Linked DNA regions of Homo sapiens. The protein of the gene in region 3 interacts with the protein of the main gene of each other region in a biochemical or structural test. Each region holds a gene or a part of one and is shown on either strand. Other genes may lie near its edges.

What was found.
Region 1: the proteins of GNAO1 (region 3) and RGS5 form a complex in vitro, tested with the Homo sapiens proteins (one study listed by BioGRID).
Region 2: the proteins of GNAO1 (region 3) and RGS20 form a complex in vitro, tested with the Homo sapiens proteins (one study listed by BioGRID).
Region 4: the proteins of GNAO1 (region 3) and ZBTB16 form a complex in vitro, tested with the Homo sapiens proteins (one study listed by BioGRID).

What each region holds. Positions count from the first base shown.
Region 1 is NC_000001.11:163,143,816-163,147,622, reverse strand, and holds part of RGS5 (regulator of G-protein signaling 5), read left to right. Parts: intron 1-119; coding exon 120-281; 3' UTR 282-3,807.
Region 2 is NC_000008.11:53,887,306-53,891,112, forward strand, and holds part of RGS20 (regulator of G-protein signaling 20), read left to right. Parts: intron 1-3,807. UniProt on the Homo sapiens protein: Inhibits signal transduction by increasing the GTPase activity of G protein alpha subunits thereby driving them into their inactive GDP-bound form.
Region 3 is NC_000016.10:56,334,489-56,337,988, forward strand, and holds part of GNAO1 (guanine nucleotide-binding protein G(o) subunit alpha), read left to right. Parts: intron 1-240; coding exon 241-369; intron 370-2,242; coding exon 2,243-2,372; intron 2,373-3,500. UniProt on the Homo sapiens protein: Guanine nucleotide-binding proteins (G proteins) function as transducers downstream of G protein-coupled receptors (GPCRs) in numerous signaling cascades.
Region 4 is NC_000011.10:114,237,571-114,241,377, forward strand, and holds part of ZBTB16 (zinc finger and BTB domain-containing protein 16), read left to right. Parts: intron 1-3,807. UniProt on the Homo sapiens protein: Acts as a transcriptional repressor. Transcriptional repression may be mediated through recruitment of histone deacetylases to target promoters. May play a role in myeloid maturation and in the development and/or maintenance of other differentiated tissues.

The DNA.
Region 1 (3,807 bases), on a different chromosome or scaffold from region 3:
TTTTTAATGACTTTCCTCCCCTCTTATGTTTTATTGATGAGAAATTCCACCTCCCTCTTCACCCCTCATCAAATTCTATAACTTAGGCTTATGTAGTGACCCTGTTTCCTGGCCCACAGGTGAATATTGACCACTTCACTAAGGACATCACAATGAAGAACCTGGTGGAACCTTCCCTGAGCAGCTTTGACATGGCCCAGAAAAGAATCCATGCCCTGATGGAAAAGGATTCTCTGCCTCGCTTTGTGCGCTCTGAGTTTTATCAGGAGTTAATCAAGTAGTAATTTAGCCAGGCTATGAAATCATCCTGTGAGTTATTTCCTCCATAATAACCCTGCATTTCCCATTAATCTACATATCTTCCCACAGCAGCTTTGCTCAGTGATACCCACATGGGAAAAATCCCAGGGGATGTTGCTTACTCTTTTTGCCCACACTGCTTTGGATACTTATCTACTGTCCGAAGGCCTTCTTTCCCCACTCAATTCTTCCTGCCCTGTTATTAATTAAGATATCTTCAGCTTGTAGTCAGACACAATCAGAATCACAGAAAAATCCTGCCTAAGGCAAAGAAATATAAGACAAGACTATGATATCAATGAATGTGGGTTAAGTAATAGATTTCCAGCTAAATTGGTCTAAAAAAGAATATTAAGTGTGGACAGACCTATTTCAAAGGAGCTTAATTGATCTCACTTGTTTTAGTTCTGATCCAGGGAGATCACCCCTCTAATTATTTCTGAACTTGGTTAATAAAAGTTTATAAGATTTTTATGAAGCAGCCACTGTATGATATTTTAAGCAAATATGTTATTTAAAATATTGATCCTTCCCTTGGACCACCTTCATGTTAGTTGGGTATTATAAATAAGAGATACAACCATGAATATATTATGTTTATACAAAATCAATCTGAACACAATTCATAAAGATTTCTCTTTTATACCTTCCTCACTGGCCCCCTCCACCTGCCCATAGTCACCAAATTCTGTTTTAAATCAATGACCTAAGATCAACAATGAAGTATTTTATAAATGTATTTATGCTGCTAGACTGTGGGTCAAATGTTTCCATTTTCAAATTATTTAGAATTCTTATGAGTTTAAAATTTGTAAATTTCTAAATCCAATCATGTAAAATGAAACTGTTGCTCCATTGGAGTAGTCTCCCACCTAAATATCAAGATGGCTATATGCTAAAAAGAGAAAATATGGTCAAGTCTAAAATGGCTAATTGTCCTATGATGCTATTATCATAGACTAATGACATTTATCTTCAAAACACCAAATTGTCTTTAGAAAAATTAATGTGATTACAGGTAGAGGCCTTCTAGGTGAGACACTTTTAAGGTACACTGCATTTTGCAAAAAAAAAAAAAAAAAGTAATCTTTTAGCAACCCCAGTATTCCTTCACTATTTCGCTTCCTGCATTAGCAAATTTTACTTACAGTCAAAAGTGCAGATTTATACTCCTGACGTGTCTCATTCACAGCTAAATAATAGGCCATAGGACTTTTGGTAGGTTTAAACTTTTAATTCTGTATTTCATGATTATAAGTCTTGCTAGAATTTTTTCTAATCTTTAGTAGATTTGATTAAATAATGATTCACAGAATTTAGTAACAGAATCAAACTAAGCCATGTATGAGGGTAATCGAGATGAGGATATTAACTCAAAAGAAATAGGGTGATTTTTAAAGGATTAATAAAATTCTGAAATGTTAAGTAGAAGATTACATTGTCTAGTCTTGTATTTCCTCCTTCTGTTGCTCTCTTTCATTCACACACTCTCAGTTTCTCATATTTGTAGCTCATTTATTTGGTTATTTCCTAAGAATATTGAAAGTGAAGCAACTATGTGACTGTATTCTTCAGGTAAACACTGACTGCGCTTGTTGGATTTTCCCTATTTTTGTGACTTCAAGAATAATATGCCCTGCTGAATACATGCCATTTCACATTCTGAAACTGGGTAGAGTGGTTGGGTGTTCTGCCAACAATTGCTAGTGGTGTGAATTCATTCATATTTGCCAGTATTGCTCACTTCAAAGAAACTCCTTCATCAAGCAGTCCAGAGCTAGGCCAGATCAATGCTACAATCATGAAGTTCTCATTGCATGCAATTGTGTAGGATTGACAAGGAACTCAGATAAAAATTTCCAGGGTGCACTTCCAGAACCAGCTTCAACATATGTCTACATTGCCCCCAAGTTAATAAAGTGCCAACCCTTTACTCTCTCATACAGCCAGAAATGTTAGAAATCCAAAATCTTGGTGCATTATTTTTTCATAAACGCTAAAACATTTGAAGAAACAATTTAATTATTTAAAATTCAAGTATTTTATTCACATTATTTGCAATATCCAAATGTTTAAAAATTCCCAGATAATTAACTAGCTATTACAGATCTCACCTAGAGGGTTGATGTTATGAAGACTCCAGTGGACTGTACTCACAAATTGACTGGACACCCTATGAAAGTGGGTAGACCTCTCAGCGGAAAATAAGAAGGGCTTTTACCTACAGGGCAGGACAGGGTCCCATGAGAGCAGTTCTGTGGAGATATAAAAAGAATGGAAGAAGGAATGCCTTATAGTGATATTGTGACATTATATCTATATATCTACATATATCTATCTATCTATATCTACATCTATATAATCTTACATTTAAAATTGTATTCCTACACATATTAGAAACTCTTCTAATAAATGAAGTAAAAAAATTAAAAAGAATACAAATATTCCAGCCCCAAATGAGAAATCAAACATATTAAAATTGTTCAAGAAAATTTCTTTGAACACTTCTGAAAGTTTTTGGAAACTTAGAAAAGAGGGAAAAAAATCCAGTGTTACTAGTAATTTCCATGGTAATACAGATAAAATACATTCTTTTAATTCTGGGAAATTAGAAAAAGTGGGGTGATCTTTCCAGGAAAAACATGTGTAACATCTGCTTATCACTCCAGCTCCCTCCTCCTCCTCCTCTCCACGTTCCCTTGAGTAAATGTCTGGGAAAGCATGAAGCTTGATGCAAGAACCCTGTTGTACTGGCGTTTTCCTCCCCTGTGAAAACGTAACTACTGTTGGGAGTGAATTGAGGATGTAGAAAGGTGGTGGAACCAAATTGTGGTCAATGGAAATAGGAGAATATGGTTCTCACTCTTGAGAAAAAAACCTAAGATTAGCCCAGGTAGTTGCCTGTAACTTCAGTTTTTCTGCCTGGGTTTGATATAGTTTAGGGTTGGGGTTAGATTAAGATCTAAATTACATCAGGACAAAGAGACAGACTATTAACTCCACAGTTAATTAAGGACGTATGTTCCATGTTTATTTGTTAAAGCAGTGTGAATAGCCTTCAAGCATGTGAATAATCTTCCATCTTCCCCGCCACACATACACACACACACTTTTTGTTTCTTTCAGGTAGACACCTTTTAAAATGCAGAACTAACTGAGGCATTTCAGTAACTTTGCTTTCAAATCAATAAAGTCAAATGTATGGAAACATTTTGTGCCCTACTCTCCATACCCCGTGTACTCAAATTCTCTACTGTATGAATTATGCTTTAAGTAGAATTCAGTGCCAAGGAGAACTTGGTGAAATAAATTATTTTAATTTTTTTTTTATCCTTTACAAAGCCATGGATTTTATTTGGTTGATGTGTGCTCTGTACACAAGCCATTTCAATAGGATGGAGCTGTTAATTATTTTCCAAAGAGTAATAGACATGCAAAAGTTTCAATAAAAACTGGGCCATTAACAAATAAATTAATAAACTAATAAGCATTCCCTTCTAGGTTTTT
Region 2 (3,807 bases), on a different chromosome or scaffold from region 3:
GAAAGTTATGTCCATCTTCCAGTTACTTGCCAGCTTCCAGTCACTTGTCTTTGCTGATCAGGAGGAATTCGTTCCTTATCCTGGATATTGGCCTTTACATTTTTCTGTTGTATCCAAGGGTTCAACCTCTAGGGTGATGATCGTCCCTGTAAGGATTTTTGGAAAAATCTGCATTTTGGTGGAGGCTCCACCTGAGGTTGAGGGAAATGAAGAGATGGGTTAGACTGTGGACACAAGAGAGGTGACACAGGAGAGGGTGCTGGCCAGAGAGCAGCCCAAGAGCACACGCCCATAGATTTCTTAATTTGTATAAAAGTCATGTTGATAATTAATGACAGGAAGTCATTATCCAGAGAACTCAGATTAGACTACTGTTAAAAAGTACATGTGGCCAGGCGTGGTGGCTCACGCCTGTAATTCCCACACTTTAGGAGGCCAAGACGGGTGGATCACTTGAGCCCAGGAGTTCCAGACCAGCCTGGGCAACATAGTGAAACCCCGTCTCTTTAAAAAATGCAAAAAATTAGCTGGGTGTGGTGGTGCACACCTGTAGTCCCAGCTACTTGGGAGGCTGAGGCTGGAGAATCACCTGAGCCTGGGGACACTGAGGTTGCAGTGGGCCATGATCTTGCCTCTGCCCTCCAGCCTGGGCAACAGAGTGAGACCCTGACTTAAAAAAAAAAAAGGTATATGTATATTTTTCTCTATTCATCTTTTGATGACTCCAGAAGAATCTTACATGTATGGGGTCTTCCATTATACATTCATTGTGTTTTTACAAATACTTATTTCTAGTGACTACCCAGATATAATTCATATATCTCCTGCCATAAAGAAAGGTATAGATATTTCTTTGCATTTAAGGGGGACTTTACATACAGAGTTTAATTCTTCCTGACCTACTATAATCCCCGCAAATTTCAGTTGTTAGGACTGTTTAATGAATTAGAGTATTTCTAAAACTGAAACAAAGTTTTTCTGTGTTTGTTAGGTTTCAGTGAGGAGCTATTTGGTATTTTTGTGAGGTTTATGACAGCTTTTAACTTCATTTACTTGAGTTATAACTTACAGTAAAGTTTACACATCTTAAGAGTACAGCTTAGTAAACTTTATGTAAGTGTACCCCCACAGAACCACCATTTAGATCAGGGTTTCTCACCTCAGCACTGTGGAAATTTGGGGTTGAACAACTCCTTATTGAGGGGGGCTGTCCATTGCCCTGTAGGATGTTTAGCAGTATCCCTGATCTCCACCCACTGCATGATGCAGTAGCGCCCCTCCCTGGATGCCATGACCAAAAATGTCTCTAGACATTGCCAAGCGTCCTCTGGGGCCAAAATCACTCACCACGGCTCTAGATGAAGATATAGGATATTTTCAGCCCCCCGTGCTCTCCCAAAGATTCCGTCTCGCTTCCTTCCATTCAGGACTCACTCCCACAGGTAACCACTTTTATAACTTTTTTCACCATATACCAATTGTGCCTGCTTTTAAACTTCATATGTAATTAAACAGTGTATAATATTTGCATCTGGTTCTTTAGCTCAGCATTATGTTTTTGAGATTCATTTGTTGTTGTACGTGTTGTTATTTTTTAATGCTGTGCAGCGTTCCTTTGTGTGAATACACCACAGTGTATTCCATTCCACTACTGAAGAAATTTTAGTTGTTTCCAGTGTGGAGCTATTATGAATAATGCTAATATGAACATTCTCATTCATGTCTTTTGATGAACTTATTTCCTTTGGGTATATGCCCAGGATAAAAATTGTTGGGTAATAAGTCCAGTGTATGTTTAGCTTTAGTAGATACTGCAAAACTGTTTCATAGTCCAAATCAGTTTACATCCATCCCCACCAGCAAAGTGTGTATTGCTTCACATCCTCACCAGTACTTAGTATTGTTTGCCCATTTAACTTTAGTCATTCTGGTGGCTGTGTAGTGGTATCTCATTATGGTTTTAATTTGTATTTCCCTGGCTACTAATGATGTTAAGCATCTTCTTATATGTTTTTGGGTCAAGTCATTTGTATATTTTCTATTTAAAATGCCTCTACAAGCCTTTGGCCCATTTTTCTTTTTCTTTCTTTCTTTCTCTCTCTCTCTCTTTTTTTTTTTTTTTTTTTTTTTTTTTTTTTTTTTTTTTGAGACAGGGTCTCACTCTGTTGCCCAGGCTGGAAGGCAGTGGCACAATTAGCCGTGAAGCTGAGACTATAGGTGTCCACCACCACACTCAACTAATTTTTTTATTTTGGATATTGGGAAGGGGTAGAGATGGGGTTTCACCATGTTGCCCAGGCTGGTCTTGAACTTCTGTTTGGCCCATTTTTCTATTGTGCCGCTGATCTTTTATTATTGTTATTATTGATCTGTCACAGTTCTTTATATATTCTGGATACAAGCCATCTGTCAAAATTCTGTGTGTGTGTGTGTGTGTGTGTGTGTGTGTGTGCACGTGCTGCAAATCTCTTCTTCCAGTCTGGCCTGCCTTTACACTCTCATTCCATTATCTTTTGACTTTCCTAGTTTCTGTTGGAAAGTTATGCTTCTTTGAAGGTAGCCTGTTGTTATCCTCATAAAGTTTTTCTCTCATTTTTGACTTACCACAGTGAATATAATGTGCCTATATGTGGTTTTCATTTTATTTATTCTCCTTTGGGTTAACTGAGCTTCTTTTATCTGTGGATTGACGTCTTTCATCAACTTTGGAAAATTTTCACTCAATATCTCTTCAAATATGGCTTTGTCTGGTTTTCTTTCTTTCTCTCCTGCTTCTGGGACCCAAATCACAGATATGTTGGCCTTTTTCCTTCATGTCTCTTATTGTCTGATCTGTTTTGTTCATTTCGCATATCTTTCTGCTTCAATTTGAATATTTTCTGTTGACCTGTGTTTTAGTTAATTAAGCTGTCTTCCTCTGTGCCTGAGTCTTCTGTCAAATCATCTAGTGAGTTATTAATTTCAGAACTTGTTTTCTTCTAAATGTAGTATGCCAATTTGATTCATTTTAATACATTTAAATTATCTGATGAAATTTCCCATCTTTTCATCAGTTTAGTCCATCTAATTCTTATCTACTAAATCCAATGAGATCATCTGTGTGCCTGTATCCATTTTTTTATTCATCACATTTTTATCTCTCTTCACATATCTAGTAATTTTTATTATATGTAGACATTGTATATAAAGAAACTGTGTAGGTTCTGGTAATTTCTTCCACCAGCAAGGATTGAATCTCCCTTGGAGGGATTTCCTGTCTAAGGATGAAGGACTGAAGGGCTGATCACTTCAGGCCAGCAGGTATTAGAATGGGTCAGATCTGGTAACAGTTTTGGGGGTTTTTTTGTTTTGACATGGAATCTCCCTCTGTCACCCCTAGAATGGAGTACATTGGCACCATTATAACCTAGAATTCCTGGGCTCAAGCAGTCCTCCCACTTCAACCTCCTGAGTAGCTGGGATTACAGGCACTTGCCAATTCACCTGACCATTTTTTACAAATGTTTTGTAGAGATGGGGTCTCGCTATGTTACCCAGACTGGTGGCTGCAGTTTTAATAAGATTTAGCTAATGCCCAGTTCTTTCTTGTTCCTTGGGAATTTTCTCTTGGATTCCAGAATGAAAGCCTGATGGACTTCTATCTCCTTGGTCTCAAAAGAATGGAAGACTCAGTCTTGCCTTCAGAGGTTTTAAGTTTGTTCTTTGCCTCCACCTTCCCCATATGGCCGCCACATTTGATAAATGTCTTGTAGGACCCAGCCATGTGTTTGAGGAAGTCCTTGTTACTGAAGGGGACTTGTTCTGCCA
Region 3 (3,500 bases):
TGTCCCGGGAGCTGCATGCGTAGCCCTTTTGGCTGTGAATGAGTGCGTGAGGCCAAGACCCCTAAGACCCACTTCCTCAGTCGCCCCCACTCCCTATGGCCTGGAATGGAGGTGATGTCTTTTCCACAGTGACCTGGAGGGGCCCTGACCGAGACTGGACTCTGAAGATGGGTGGCCTGGCCAGTCCCGAACAGTGTCCAGGCATTTGGTCCATAGTCCCCTGTTTGTTGCCATCCTCAGCTACCTGGACAGCCTGGATCGGATTGGGGCCGCCGACTACCAGCCCACCGAGCAGGACATCCTCCGAACCAGGGTCAAAACCACTGGCATCGTAGAAACCCACTTCACATTCAAGAACCTCCACTTCAGGTGAGGCCCAGAGAGGCCCCCAGGCCCTGGCGAGGGCTAAGATGGGACATGCCCAGCCTCTCAGCGCATTGCGTTTACAGCGCCCAAACATCATCCTGCCCCAGGGAACCTGCGGGCTGGGGCAGGCAGCTAGATACTAGAAGGAACCTGTCTGTGTTTCTGCCAAGGTTAGGGGCTGGAGTGAGCAGGGAGGCTTTCTGGAAGAAGATTCCCAGAGTGGGGCTGTGAGGAACAGGGAGGATTTGGACAAGGAGGGGCAGCCTGTCCCTGAGGTGACTTCCAAGGAGGAGGAGGAGGTGGGCTACCAGGGGGCCCTTCCAAGGTCACCTTGGGGGGAGGAGCCAAGAGTGGGGCTGGGTAAGCCCAAGCTACCTCTGTGAGACCCTGAGGACCCAAGTAATCCCAGAGCTGGAAGGAGCAGAGAGAGCTGACCCACCCTCTCCTAGTACGCTTGGGAAGCTGAGGCCTGACAAGAGCAGGGCTTTTCCCAGGCACAGAGCACAGCTAGAACCCAGGGGCTCTGGGGCCTCAGAGCAGGGGCCTGACGGGTGAGCTGGTTCCCAGGGTCCTGCTGCAGCGCTGTGTCCCCACCTGCAGTAACATGCGTGCACTGAGGCCTGCTCCGTCCTGTGGGGAAGAGAGGCCAGCAGAGAAGGGGAGGGCAGGGACCCCTGCTGGGAGAGCTGGATTCTAATATTCCCTGCCTCCCATGTCCCCAACTCCTGCCCGCTCCTGTTCAGACTGAGGGGCCGAGGCTCTGGGCCCAGGAACCCCTAGGCCTCCGCAGATCTGGGGAGCAAAACCTTGGGCAGAGCAGCCCTGAGGGGCCTCTCTTGCCTTCCCAGGCTCCTTGGTCTCTCCTGCTCCCCCACTGGGAGCACAGGATGGGGATCTCAGCTCAACCCAGCCCAGCAAGGCGGGGTCTGAGAATAAGCATTCTGGAGGGGCCACAGAGGCCATCTGCCAACGCCCCTGCATTTCAGATGGGGAGGTGGGATCCAGGGGAGGATCCCCTGATTGATGGAATGAGAACCAGACCCATTCCTTGCTCTGAGCCCACACTAATCTCTGCCTGCAGTCACTCCGTTGTGTCCGGTGGGACCAGAGATCCTTCCCTGTCCCCCTCTGGCAGGCTGTGTGTCAGCAGGCATCCCAGATCTAGGAGGCTACAGGACTCCTCGCTCTGGGGATTGGGGTGGGAGACTGACCTTTTACTTCCAGGACGTAAGTCCCACCTGCCCACAGTCTCTTCCAGAATTTTTGTGCCCCCTCGGGAGTAGAGTCTGAGAGGGGGAAGAGGCCAGGCTCTGATCTGCCAGAAAGGGGCCGTACTGGGCAGAGGTGAGAGCGCCAGCTTTGTCCACAGCCAGACCCAGCTCCACCACAGCTGGACTCTCGCCAGCTTGGGCATGTCCTAAGCCCATGGGTGGCTCACTTCTGCCATCCACATAACAGGTGACATCTCCTGCCTGCCTCCCTCCCAGGCTGGTTTGGAGTTTGCCCAGAGCAAACCCAGGAAGGAATAGACTGAGAGGAGGGTCCTCATGCGAGGAGGACTCTCAGAGGCACTTCCTGGGGGTGGCTCAGGTGCGCCCTCTTAGTAAAATGCTCCTCAGATGCAAGGGCAGGTCTTTGAGTCATGATCTGTGAGCACAGCCAGTCCCAGGACAGACTCCAGGGGTAGTGCCTGGGGATGGCAGTGATCCAGCTGTCTGTCATCACCTGGAGTGACAAGGTCTTCTAGTGAGGGCTTTTAGCAAGGCTCTGAGCACCATGGCCCCCATCCTCTGCCTCTCAGCGTGCTCACAGCTTAATCCCCAGGCAGCCCTCACCTGCCTGGACCCTGCGCCTACCAGCTCCCTGCCTCCTACAGGCTGTTTGACGTCGGAGGCCAGCGATCTGAACGCAAGAAGTGGATCCATTGCTTCGAGGACGTCACGGCCATCATTTTCTGTGTCGCGCTCAGCGGCTATGACCAGGTGCTCCACGAAGACGAAACCACGGTGAGTGGCCTGGGCCCCCCGGGCAGGGGGCAGCGCTGAGGAGACGGCCGCAGGATAGGCCAGCCCTCTGAGCACTGGGCCTCGGGTGCCCACAATGGCTCTGGGGTCCAGCCAGCTGTTGTGGTTAGAGGTTTCCATCATGGACAGGCCGTGCCGGCACTCCACCAATTCTGTATTGCCAAGGCAAATGCCTCATGATGCCAGTGTGGCAGAGCCTGTGTATGCAACCTGATCACACAGAGCCGTGCAGAATGTGCCTCTTCCATAAACTTGGTGGAGTCACAGAGGCCATCAGGCCATAGCAAATTTAAGCAAACCCTAAAAAAACCAGGAGGCAGCCAAGCAAGAATGTACAGGCAACAGAAATAGCAGTCTTAGCCTGACAGCCATCCCTGGGGCACTGGCGTCAGATGCTGCTGAAGCAGCATGGGGCCGGGGATGCTGAGGGAGAGGTGGGGAGGGCCCAGGATGCTGCAGGAGAGTTGCGTGGGGTTGGGGGTGCTGGGGAGCAGTGTGTGGGGCTGATGGGCCAGGAAGGGCAATGGGGATGAGGCATGCTGGTGAGTGACAGTCGTGGCTCTGGGCTCCTTTGCCAAATGCCAGACCAGGCTCCTACCTTCTGTCTTGCGTCACATTCAGCCTAGGGCCTCAGTGAGGGGACATTCCCCTGGGAGAGTGCAGCCTTCCTCTGGGTCTAGTCCTGGCTCTGCTACTCACTGGCTTGCTGCTGAATTTAGGCAGCACCCTTTCTGGCTCAGTTACTATTTTCCATAAAAGGGAGATAATAATAGTACCTGCCTGTGGGGGGCTGTTGGCAGTGGGGTGGGTGATGCGTGTGCAGCGCTCTGGAGCTGTTTCTGGGACAGCAGCGCCAAGCTGGTGGTTGTACAGTTGCTGGTGATTGCCCTGAGCCTGCAGGTCCACTGCGTGGTCCCCTTCTGGGCTGCAGCCCGCCAGGCACCGAGCATGGCCCACAGGGTCACTGGAGACAAGCCCCAACACTCCTGACAGCGGGGCCCATAGGCTATGGGGTCACAGCCTGGCGTCTGTCATCTCCTTCTGTCTGGAACACATGCAAATCCCCCACCCCACGCCTCTGAAGGCTGGCACCGAGGGTTTGAGGTTGGA
Region 4 (3,807 bases), on a different chromosome or scaffold from region 3:
AATGAATTGCTAATACAATTTTCTAGATAATTTTATTTCCATAGTCCCACATTTTAATGTGTTTCCAAAAGCTAGCATTTATTTGCTTAATCTCCCAGTGTAATAGAATCTGCCCTGACTCATCATACATGCGAACAATCAGCTAGGCTGAAACGCCAGCAAATTGTTTAATAACTCACATCTAGTCTCTAGATTTTTAACTCGCATGCACCAATAGCTTTTCTTGTGTCTCATCCACATCTCCCCCACTTTTCCATTTTTTTAAAAATACTTTTCTATCATCATAGCTGTTAGTTTCTAAGCAGAAAAATGGGGAAAGTGGATGCTGAGTCTCAGAGGCTCCCCTTTCTTCCCCTGGGAGCCTTGGTTGGTGGATACGTGACCAAGGAGCACCCCTGCACCTTGTGGAATGTCCCAGGAAGGGGAGAGAGACCACTGTAGGGACATCATAGTGTTTCCTTTCCAGCTGGTGACCATATGACTTCCAGCCTGTTGGCCAGTTGTGGAACTGGCCATCTGGGATTTTTTGCGTGCCACTCCTCCCTTGCTGTCCCACCTTTCTAGGATTTTCTCTCTCCCTTTGCCCTGGCAGCCTCTGCCCTGGTCTGGTCCCTACCCTCCTCCAGTGGCCCATCAGCCCTCTCGCTGCTTCTAACCGCTTGCTGCTGCTGTTGGTCCCCATGTGTGCCCAGAGTCACTGGCTTCAAACACAGGTCAGATCGTGCTAGCACCACTCGTCTTAGTCAAGTCAGGCTGCTATAACAAACTGCCACGGACTGGGTGGCTTATACACAGCAGACATGCATTTCTCACAGCTCTGGAGGCTGGGAAGTCTGTGATTGGGGTGCCAGCATGTTCAGGTTCTGGTGAGGGTCCTCCTCCTGGTTGCAGACTGCTGATTTCTCGGTGTCCTCACGTGGTGGAAGGGGCTAGCTAGCTCTCTGGGCCCTCTTTTACAAGGACACTCATTCCATTTTAATTACCTAATTATCTCTCCCAGGCCCCACTTCCTAATACCATCACCTTAGGGGTTAGGATTTCAAAAAAGGAATCAGAGGGGGACCCAGACATTAGGATCATAGCAACCCTCGGTCCTTTCATGGCACTGCATTGCCTGTAGAATAAAGTCCAACCTGTCCTGCCTGGCATATGCAGCCCTCTGATCTGACTCCCATCACCCTCCCAGCTTGTCTCCATCCCCAGGGCCTGACCTTGGCCCCATCTGCTCTGACATTTGCCAGTGGTGTCTCTCTCCTTAGCCTGGCACATGTGTCCCAACTTCTTGTCCTTTGCTTCTCAGATACTCAACTTTTAAAAGCCTAACTCAAAATCTCAGGAGCTCTTGGAGTCGCCCTGCCTTACCCTCTGGGTGGTTGTTAACTCAGCATCTCCCACTAGTCTGGGACCCAGTTTCTCTGCTCAGCCTTAGCCTGCCCCTGGTCACCTAGCACAGTGCCTGTACTTGGTAGTGGCTCAGTGAGTTGGCTGAATGGACATGAAGTGGGTTCAGGCCACCCTGAGAAGTAGGGACAGCATAGTGGGGCAGTATCGAGGGGCCTTGGAAAGGCCAAGGGGGCAGAGTGCTGCAGTCTGCCTTGCTGGGTGTATTGACACTCAGAGCACCTGTGGGTCTGGCTGTATAGGCTGAGATGTCCTATTGGGAATGCCATTCATGTTCCCTCTGCCCAGGTTCCTTCCATGCCGGGGATCTCAGAGGATGCATAAGGAGAAGCCTTGGCTCTTAAAGGGCATGGCTGGCCTCCAAAGCCTACTCAACCCTACTGATTTAAGGTAGCTGTTTGAACACCTGGCTTAATTTGGGCTCTCTGTGGGGTGGGGGTTAAGGGCAGAGAGGGAGTAGATGCTGGGGGCTCTCAAGTTGAAGGAGTGGGGGCCACCGGGCACAGAACGCATTGCAGATGCACTGTCCTCCTGTGTACGTCGGCCAAGCAGGGAGGGACATTGAAGACTCACTGTCAACTCTTGGCATTGCTTCTGTCCAGAAAGATACATCTCTCATTATGTCTCCCTCCAGCAAGTGAAGCTGAGTAGACTACTCAGCATTTCTGAGAGACCTTGGTGGCTCCCAGTGGGATTGGAAGGCCTCAGAGAGCTATGCCTTGTGACCCAGCCCCAGCTACTGCCCACTCCTGGCCAGGGGTTCTCTAGCCATTGCTGGAGCTGTACTAGAGGCAGGAGTCCTCTGTACCATCCTTACTGGGCCTCTTCCAGGGTAAGCCCAGACAGGCGGGCAGTCAGCTCCAGAGGTAGCATTGAGTCCAGCCCCGTGGTTTCTGAAAGACAAACCGAGATATTTTCAGATCCCAACTCTGCCTCTTTCTGTGTGATCTTAGGCAAGTTATTTAATCTCTCTTTTACACTGGTAAAAAGGGGGATAAGAATGCCTGCCTTGTAGGATTGCAAGTTTTAAATGAACTGACAACATAGATAAGGTACCTAGCATAACGCCTAGATTCGCTCCCCTTCCTTCCTGCTTTTTGTTGGCCAGGAGCAAAATCCTGTGCTGGCTGTTTTTCTCCTTCCCTGCTCAGCCTTCCTGACTGCTGGTGAGATGGGGCGTGGCTCCAGGTGCTTAGACTTCAGTGTCTGCAAAGGGAAGGGATATCAGGGTGGGTGTGAGGGGCACAGAAGTGTGGGGGACAGTGAGAGGTGGGCCTTGCCTGCCTACTAGTCCATCCTAACCCAGCCATGAGTGGGACGGAGGTGGTGAGGACCAGACCTCTCACTTGCTATCTCCATTGATGGCCAGGAAGGCAGGGAGGTTCTTCGTGCCATCCCTTCTCTTCCCCCTACCTTCCACCAGACACTTCCCGATTCCATGCTGAGCAGCCCATGGCTTCCAGCAGCCAAAGCTTTACCCCCTCCCCCCACCCACTCTGGACTGGACTGACAGATGCTAGGCCTACTTACGTTTCCTGCTTGTGCCTTCCCACACAGGGGACAGCGGTGTGGGGCCAAGTGCAGGTGATATTGCCCAGGCACCAGCACAGAGACACACAGATGGGCCTGCCGGGGAGCTCCTGTGCTCAGGAAAACAGAGCCCAAAAGGGTGGGCACTGAGCTGCCAGTTAGGACTCAGACACAAGGTCAGATACTTCCTCCTGTGGTGCTGCAGCTGGAAATTTCGGCCATGGCTCCAGAGCAGTGTCAGAAAGGGATTGGTAACAAACAGAAAATGGCAGCCTGTATGTGTGGGGTACTTTGGGGATGAACAGCCAGTTAGAATTAAATGAAAATCTCACATCACTCGCTAGCTTTCAATCCTTTGACAGTTGCCCATCGGGTTTAGGATGGAACTAAATCTCTTGACGTGGTTTGCAAGACCCTGCATGGCCTGGCCCTTGCCTTTCCCTTTAGCCTCCTCTTCTTCCCCAGCTGCACTGCACCATTCCTCTGTCTGATCCTCCCACCGGCCATGTTTCCTCCTGGCCCAGAGTGTTCACAGACACTATTCCATCTTCCGGATTCCGCCATTCACCTGGTGTTCTGGGTAACGTCGGTCATGAGAGCAGGGACTTTGCATGCTCTTCCTTGGTTATATCCCCAGTGCCAAAAAGACAGCCTTGCTTGTAGAAGGCATCAAATAATACTTGTTGAGTGAATGGACCTAAGATTCATGCTTTAGTGAGTGGAGAAGTAGTTAAAAAAAAAAAACAAAACAGGATCTGTAGCTAGTCTTGGGAAAGCATTAAAATCTAGGGTGTGTGAGTGTGAACCCCAGCCCTGCCACTTACGAACTCTATGGCAGGAGTCCCCAACCCCCGGGCCATGGTCTGTGAGGAGCTG